Linked DNA regions of Homo sapiens: region 2 is linked to region 1. The links come from fine-mapping of genetic effects on gene expression. A gene starts in region 1. The other region holds a variant in brackets. All regions are shown on one strand. Distances are between the middles of the regions.

Evidence for each region. PIP is the estimated chance that this variant, and not a neighbour inherited with it, causes the effect.
Region 2: its variant is the best candidate, but not a certain one, in a credible set for the expression of SYT2 in tibial artery (GTEx, PIP 0.74).

What each region holds. Positions count from the first base shown.
Region 1 is chr1:202,708,362-202,712,743 of GRCh38, reverse strand. It overlaps SYT2 (synaptotagmin 2), which reads left to right and starts at 2,290. Exons shown (of 9, transcript NM_177402.5): 1 at 2,290-2,486.
Region 2 is chr1:202,581,254-202,585,635 of GRCh38, reverse strand. PPP1R12B (protein phosphatase 1 regulatory subunit 12B) reads right to left here. Exons shown (of 24, transcript NM_002481.4): 24 at 1-4,382. Among named protein-coding and RNA genes, the nearest start is that of SYT2, 130 kb to the left of the region's middle. The variant C/T (reference allele first, on the strand shown) is at 2,664.

The DNA.
Region 1 (4,382 bases):
AGATACTAGAGGCTCATCTTTCTACAATGATGAACAGTTGAAAAGCAAAGTATCTAATAATAGGCTGGGTGTGGAGGGGGTGGATGTCTTTTCCATTCTTTCCTCTTCCAGCTCCTGAAGCCTGGGGGAATAAGCAAGAGGGATGTTGAGCTCTTGATTAGGTTTGTAACCCAGACACTACTGGTCCTGATGAATTAAAAGAACATTAAGGCTGTAGCCAGCGACACCACATTTTTCATTTAACCAAATTGATTACAGCTCTGACTCTCCTAATAGCCTGGGAAGGCAGGCTGGCTTCCTCTGACGTGCTTAGGAGAAGAAGCTGGGGCACCAGATTGACACAAGGCTTTGATCAGAACAGTAGGCAGCTGAGTCTGCTGCCGTGGAAAAGTTGAAGCGCATCAGGCCAGTTCGCTTGGCTTGATTCTGTGCGAGGGGGCTGCAGCCCTCTTTCTGGCTGGAGTCCTGCAGATACTGGTTGTTGGCATGGGGAGCAGGAAGGAATGAATAGAGTAGAGCCAGCCCCTTTGGGGAAGCAACAAGTCCTGGAACACACCTGGCTAAGGGTGGGGGTGGTGGGTAACCTCTTTGAATGTAAAGGTCTCATTAGTCCATTGTAACTTGGCTCCCCATTTCCTCCACTGCCCTTGTTCTGGCTGCTCCACAGGTGAAGGGGGAGGGCCTCTGTGCCTCAGGGGCTGTGAGCACAGCTTCAGCCTGATTGAGGACTCCCCAGAGGTCTTCCCCCACCTTTTTCGTAACATCCACTGAGTCGGCAGCCACTTGCCGCCTTGCTCTGAGGCAAGCCAAACTGGGGATAGTCTCCAACTGGGGATGGTCTGCCAGTAACACCTGGTATTATTGGCACAGTGATCTGAAAAGTGCCCTCCACTGCCTCTTCTCTCCCCAAAGCCTGAATCCCACTTGTTCTTTGCATCTCCTCATATTGCATTCATTCCACCTCTCACTCACTCACCTAGTACGTATTGAAGACTGACCTCAGGCCATGTACGGTTTTGTACCCAAAAGCGAGGCAGGATGCTACAGTCCTATTATAAAAGTTAACTCCAGGCCAAGCGCAGTGGCTCATGCTTGTAATCCCAGCACTTTGAGAGGCTGAAGTGGGTGGATCCCTTGAGGTCAGGAGTTCGAGACTAGCCTGGCCAACATGGCAAAACCCCATCTCTACTAAGAATACAAAAATTAGCCGGGTGTGGTGGCGCACGTCTGTAATCCCAGCTGCTCGGGAGGCTGAGGCGGGAGAATCCCTTCAACCCAGGAGGCAGAGGTGGCAGTGAGCCAAGATCGCGCCACTGCACACTGCACTGCAGGTTGGGTAACAGAGTGAGACTTGTCTAAAAAAAAAAGAAAAAAAAAAGTTAACTCCAAAAGAGTTAAAGCGGATATTCAAATTGTGCTGTAAGGAAGTTCTGGTGCTGCCCTGGCAGCTCCTGGGTAGGTTAGGAAGGGCTCTGTTTTGCCCTTGCCACCCTTCTCTTTCTCCCAGGCTCTTCCGAAATGCCACCACTTAACTGTCTGCAGCTCCTTGGTCCAACGCACCATTCAGGGACTGTTTCCCCACCTGCAAACTGCCCACGCAAAATGCCCACCTTAAAGGGATGTCTTACGTATTAAGCAAACTAACATGTGTGAACACCCTGTCTTTAATAACCAGTAGCGTCCTCCTTTTCTTTCTACCGTCTTCCAGCTCCTCTCTCCTTGTCACCCTGCAGTTCTTACTCTCCCCTCCGCTGTTCTATTTCCATAGGCCTCAGGCACCGCTGTCTTCTCTCAAGCATCCTCCTCTCTCTCACCCAACCTTTAGGCTCAGAAGCCCCCACCATCCAGGTGGCCAATATAGGTAGCGGTGACCTAAGCGGAGAGGGGAGGAGGGGAGGCTAGGGGCTCAGGGATCCCAAAATGGCCATGGGGATGGGGGCTCCTGAGCCCAATAATTTAGCCTTGAGCTGCAGTGGGTTCGGGAAGTTGGAGAGAAGGAGCTGGCTAGAAAGGAGACCAGCCTTCTGGGGTGGGGAGTATAGAGCTCCTTTCCAGTCCGCCTTCCTGCTGGGGAAGCAGCCTCCTTGACCTTGAGCAGGAGGCGGGGGCGCCGAGCGCCTGGGGGGCTGCGCAGAAAGAACCCGTCCCGGGGGGCAGGCCCGCCCTCCGCCTCCTCCGGGCCTCCTCCGCCTCGGTCCCCGCCCTCCCACGCCGCTTGGTCTCCTCCCCTCACTGCAGCGCTCGCCGCGCGCGCCCATCGATCAGGCCCCCTCCCTCTGCCGCCTCGGCGCAGACTGCTAAGCTCAGCAAGTCTTGCGGCAAAGGCACTTCGGAGCCGAGTTGGGGCAGCGGTGGAGCGGGGACTTCGCGCCCCCAGGGGAACGGGCGCCCCTGCGAAACCGTCGCCAGCCACGCGTCCTTGCCGTCCGACGCCCCCTCACATTGGAGACCCCGGATCTCTCCCGCCTCCTTCGGGTCGCTCTCCGGTAAGTCCATACCCCCGCCGGTGGGGGCACGGACCTCCCTCTCCAAAGTTTCTCCTTTCCTGCTACTGAGTCGAGGGGCCACGGGGTGGTCTGGGTCCCGAGAGGTGAGTAGGGTTGGGGAAGTTTGAGGCCAAGGGGGCCGGGAGTCTGCCCCGTCCTTTGGGGGAGTTTGGAAGCGTCCGGATGGAAGGTTCGTCTCGGGGAGTCGGACCCGAGGGGCGAGGAGCCGGCTCCTCTGAGGGACTGGGGCTGGGCTGGGGGCAGATTTCCTCCCGCGGGTTGCTGCAGAGAGGGGCGGGCCACGCGTCCCCTGCACCGGCCGGCTCTGCGCCCCCGTCCCTCTCTCCTTTCCCTGGGACGAACCCACTCGCGTCTAGCCCAGCCCCCGCCAGCCCTAGCGGTCTCCAAGGAAGGTTCTTTTGCCCCAGTCTCAAGCTTCGGGGACCCCTGGCACCGCCGTCGTGGGAAGTGGGGCGGGGGGTGGGGTCTGGGCGCTGGGAGCCGGAGACCCTGGGTCAGGGAGAGGTTGGGGAGACAGACTGCAGGGGCCATCTGGAAGCAACGGGCACGAGGAGCTGGGGCAGGGGCCCAAGAAGGGGCTGGAGGCGCCCCTCCCCTCTCTCCAAATCTCATGACTCAGCACGACCTAGGACGCCCCGTCCCTGCTTCAGCTCTGTCCCCAAGGGCTAGGCTCGCAGCCTGGCGGGTGCTGACAGCCCGACTCCCTTTTCTGGACTCTTCCATGTACCTTTCCCATTTGGGGTGCCCCCTTCCCCTGCCTATGCTCCTTCCCCCACCTCTGGGGCACAGGGCTTTTATTTTTCAACTAAAAAGTGGAGCTTTATCGTTTCACATCCCACTAAGCCAGGCCCCCTCATCCTGTCTCCTCCCTTTTCATCCCCACATTCCACAGGTGCCTCCAGGACACCCCCAGCCCATGGCTCGTGGGGTGTCTCCTGGCAGGGCAGTGTCCTCCCTTACCCCTGGCTGAGGTGGCAGAGTAGGTGCTCTCCCCGCAGCAGGAGAAGGGAGTGCAAGGACAGAAGAGGTGCTGGCCCAGGAGGGGCCACTGCAGTGGGGAGGGAAGGGCAGAGGCCCCGTGGGCAGGTAGTACAGGTTGAGTTAGCTTATAAGGAGGAGGAAGTCCTTAGGATCTGGGGGCGCCCAGGAAGCCAGAAAGGTGAACTGGGGTCTGACCTGGAAAGCAAAAGGGTGCCCTTCTCCCTCCCCTACTGCTGCCGCCCTGCGGGGCCTCTCCCAGGTGGAATAGATTGTCCTCCATCCAATCTGTCTGGATCCCCATAACCTGGCACTTCATTAGAGGGGGTGACAGAAGCAGGGAAGCCCTTAATCCTTTCAACCATCTCTCCCTACTTAAGACTAAGTCCAGCTTTGGGGCTGCTAGAAACATCTCTGTGACCAGCAGAGGTGCTGAAAAAAGCCATGCCCAGTGCCCCAAAGGCGGGCCCGAGTGGCAGGTGGAAGGGGGCAGGGTGGCTCTGATGCAGTGGGACGTGCCTGGCATCCTGGTCCTGTGGAATGAGAGTGGTGGTCTGGCAGGCACTGCAAGCTGCAGCGTGTGTCAGGGCCCTGGGGGTGAGTCAGCGTCAGGGGTCCACGCCAGGCACACTGCAGCCTAGGGAGTCCAACTCCAACCCATCTCCTCCCATGCCCCTGGAAAATGGCCAGTGCCCACTGAACCCCGACTGAACCACCTTTCCCTCAGGGTGGCTGCCTCTGCTCTGCTTGGCTGCCAGGCAGATCCCTGGCTTCACCCTCTAGGACTCCCCCCAGAGGCTTGGCTTTTTCTGGAGATCTTTTGGGCTTAATCCTTACCTTCTCCCCTCCTTGTCTTGCCAAAGGAGGAGGAGAGGGAGGCAGAGGAAAGTTTCTAGG
Region 2 (4,382 bases), 130 kb after region 1:
TCTGGACTTGGATTTTTGAGGTTAGAAAGAATTTTTGAAGCAGAAATCCCAATAAATATGCTGATCTTCCTAAGAATGAATAAATCACAGAATTTTAAGCCAAAAGGAAAGGGCACATAAAGATTATCCAGTCCAACCTCATTTTACAGACAGGGAGGGTGACCTGCCCAAAGTCACATGACTAAAAGGAGAAGGGGTGGCCTTGGAATACAGATGTTCTGACTTCTAGGGTCTTATCTTTTAATGTTGCCTTTTTGTCCTCAAAGCTGCCTGCTTATTGGGTTGGAAGAACTCACATCTTATGAAGGGTTAGACCCTGCCTTGAAAATCAGTATGGTAGGCTGGGCGTGGGCCCTTACGCCTGTAATCCTATCGCTTTGGGAGGCCCAGCCAGGTGGATTGCTTGAGCCCAGCAGCTTCAGACCAGCCTGGGCAACATGGCAAAACCCCATCTCTACAAAAAAATTCAAAAATTAGCTGGGCATGGTGGTGCACACCTGCAGTCCTAGCTGCTCGGGAGCTGAGGTGAGAGGATCCCTTGAGCCTGGGAGGTGGAGGTTGCAGTGAGCTGAGATCACACCACTGCACTCCAGCCTGGGCGAGAGAGTATGGTGACTAAGATTTGTAGTAATAACTGGGCCTAGATTTAGGCCAATTACACGACCTCTGATTGGTAAGTGTGTGCTTAAAGTGCGGTCAGTGCTGGCATAAACAATGGGGTTTGAGGGCCCCTGATGATATCTCTGAGGGAAGGATACCAGGGCTCCTGCAGTGTTACTTCACTGATAAGCTCCAGTGGAACCAGTGGCTCATCTGGTAGAGTAGAATTTCCCTTTTCTTTCTGCTTAAATGCTGAATCCTTTCTGCTTTCTTTTTCCTTTTTGCACCTTTGGAGGTGCAAAGCCGCCTGGAAGCTGAATAACTGGCAACACTTTTAAATAGTTCTCTCTTCTCCAGGCTTCTTCTGCTCACTCCATGCCCACCTCAAGGGTGCCGACACTCACCAGTGGCCTGGACCGAAACACTGGCCTTTCTCTGAGAGGAGACAGTGTCTGTCTGTGGCTAGGAGAGGCTGCAAACAGGCCAAAAATCCAGACACCTAACAAAGTACATGGCTTTGAGAGTTTCTTCTTCCATCATCTTTGGCTCAATTAAATGCCTCTAGTGGAGAAACAGTCAGTAGTTTACACACACTTTCGTGGGATCCACAGACCATTAACTTGAGTTTTAGCTTCCTTGCTTCCTGAGTGGAACCATCTAATAAGCACATGGTTTGGGGAAGGGAAATGGGTAAAATGTTGCAAAAGAGAGATCTGAAATCTCACTAGTGGCCTCAGATAGCAATAAATGAATCTAAGTCTTCTTAAACTTGGGGTGGGAACTAGGACAGAAACCAGGGGAAGCCCAGAAGAGAAGTAAACACATCCTGCAGTTGGAAGACAGGGAGGTTCTAGGGAACATCAAATGAGAATGGCCCACTAGAGAATCTGGTACACTGAGTAAGCCCAAAGCATGTCTATTCTTTAGATTCTTTAGAGGCAACACCCTGAGATTTGCATAACCCTTTCGCTAGAGATTGGGATGGGGCTGGGGTCATCATACTCTGGAGCTATCTGGAAAAGGATCAGCAGCCCTGGAAAAACAAACTTTAGCCCCAGAATCTCTGGAATGGCCAAATCATTACTTCCAAAGGTGTGGCTCGGTTTTTGAAAAATAACAAATTAATGAAAACAGAGTTTTACCAGGAACATTCTCTTTCCCATTCTGATATTTCATGTAAAGACTCTAAGTTAAGTGACAGACCTGAGCCCCATGTTGTTGGCCATGTCTGCAGCTATTTATTCAGCTTGAGCTGCCTGGGGTGCTCATGAGTCTCCAAACCAGCAGGTGAGGACTGAGGATTGTGGCCACTGAAGAGGCCAGCAGTAGGTACCTGTCCAAGCAGCACAAGAAAAAGGAGACCTGCTGATGCCAGTATCCAGAGAGAACTGCTGGCTAGTAGAAGGCCTATAATTACCATCTCATGGGGCTTCCAGACAATACAGTTGTGAAGGAATGGTATTTTATCTCTGGAGATAGACCAGAAATCAGTTAATAAAATTAATTGCATAAGAGAAAGTACCTGAAATTACCTAGGATAGTTTACACTTACTTTCATGAGTTCTTGGCTATAGAATCCAGTATTCCTGAGATTGAAAAGCTTGCAAATTTCTTGTCACAAGGAAAACTTTCTGGCAAGAAAAGTCAGCTTTAACATGGAAGGGTCATGTGAAGTGGCAGGGATGCAACACCAATCTAAGAGTTTTGAGAATCTGCCCCCAGTACTTTTGAAAGGCACAAACAGATCTGAGGAGGCTCTCTGTAACCCCTTTCCCTGGTCTATTGAGTGGAAAAGGGTCAAGATGTATTCCTAATAATCCAATTTTCTTTTCTTGAGAAAGAAGTATCATCTTCCTTCCCCAATATTCAAAATGTTCCAGGATAATCAATTAGTCAACACCTTATGTTGATTTCCTCTCCCAGAATGAAGGATATAAAACTTATTACTCTAATTTAGCATTCCCTGAGAACTGAACTTACAGTACTCCCATGATAATACGAAGTCTCAAGATAGTAGCAGCTTCTCTTGAAAAATGGTTGGAAATGAAAGACAGAATTTTATA[C/T]ACTCTAAAAATGGGGTTTTGTCAGAGGAAACATATCTCCTGTTCTGTAATTGGGATTTTTTATTTATTTATTATTATTATTTTTTTTGAGATGGAGTCTTGCTCTGTCACCCAGGCTGGAGTGCAGTGGCGTGATCAAGGCTCACTGCAAGCTCCGCCTCCCGGGTTCACGCCATTCTCCTGCCTCAGCCTCCTGAGTAGCTGGGACTACAGGCGCCTGCCACCACGCCTGGCTAATTTTTTGTATTTTTAGTAGAGATTGGGTTTCACCGTGTTAGCCAGGATGGTCTCGAACTCCTGACCTCGTGATCTGTCCACCTCGGCCTCCTGAAGTGCTGGGATTACAGGCATGAGCCACTGCACCTGGTGGAATTGGGATCTTGAATTACAGCTTCTAGTTTAAACAGCATGTGGTGTTTCAGAGGGAGGACCATGGAGAGCTACATGTCATGTTAGGAAAGAATTAACAGACAGAGGTAGTATATATTAAGGGAATGAACCACTCTAAACACTGAATATCACTGGCAACCCTAAAATGATGAGGATTTAATGACTTGCACACTCAAGTGAACCAAGGGATAAAACTCCTACAAAAAGAAAATACTGTAAGTATTAATGCTAGGTTATCATCAAGAACTAATGGTTTAATTTTGCACTGGATTTGTATTCTTTCCAGGCCTGGACATGATATTTTAAAGGCTGGTTTTGTCTAGAGGAGGATGGCCAAGATGTGACAGGTAAGAAAAGCATGCCATATGAGGAATGACTTAAAGGACTAGAGTAACAGCAGCTCAAAGTAAGACTGAGGGGGAGACCACCCACTGCACATATCTCAAGTGCCGTTAAAGAGTTGCAGATAGTAGATCTGGACTACAAGGAGAATCCACAGGCAGACTTCAGCTGATATGAGGAAAAACTCTCTCGTTATTAGAGTTGCCCAACTTTTGAGTAATAAATGCATAGCCACCAGAGGCTACCTGACCATGCCCATGGGTGAAAGCTGTGGTAGCAGGGGTCCCTGTGACACAATAATAGAAAGCTGGACCTAATGACCTCTGGGTCTTGCCACTCTAAACTTCCATGACTCTCATCAATGGGTTGAAAGTACTTCATTCCATTAAACCTCTATTAAGTGCCATTTCCCCTATTAATTTCTAAGAAAGTAAATCTCTCTGCTAAATCTAACCACTGGAAATAATCAAATTCACCACTATTCTCACAGCCCAGTAGGCTGCTATCTTCCATCTTCTTTGTCACAATGTTGCAAGTGGCCTCAGATACTTGACTTTCGCCATATGTGTCTTTCCAGCCTGCTTCCACTTCCTAGTCCATCTCTCAACAATCTCCCCTCCCCACCTCTCATTCCTCCTTGCACTGACTTCATTTCTCATTAGAAGCAGGTGTCAGGGCGAAGAGAGGAAAACAAGGTCAAGGAAGTGAGGCAGAATGGAGTATTCAGAGCCCAAATTTTCTTATAAAGAAAATCACTTTGAAGGGGGAAGATAAGTGGGAGACGAAAACAATGAGCTGACACTTATGCCATAGTCTACCTTCCAGGGAGCAGGCAGTGGTGCTGCCACCAAGGCACCAGAGTGATGATTTTCTTGTCTCCAGAATAATGACTTCCCACAATGGCCAAAGACAACTGAGGTCAGGTGCTCTGTCCTAGCTTTTATACCATTGAGTGAGGGGGTGGGGAAGGGAAAAATATAAAAGGAT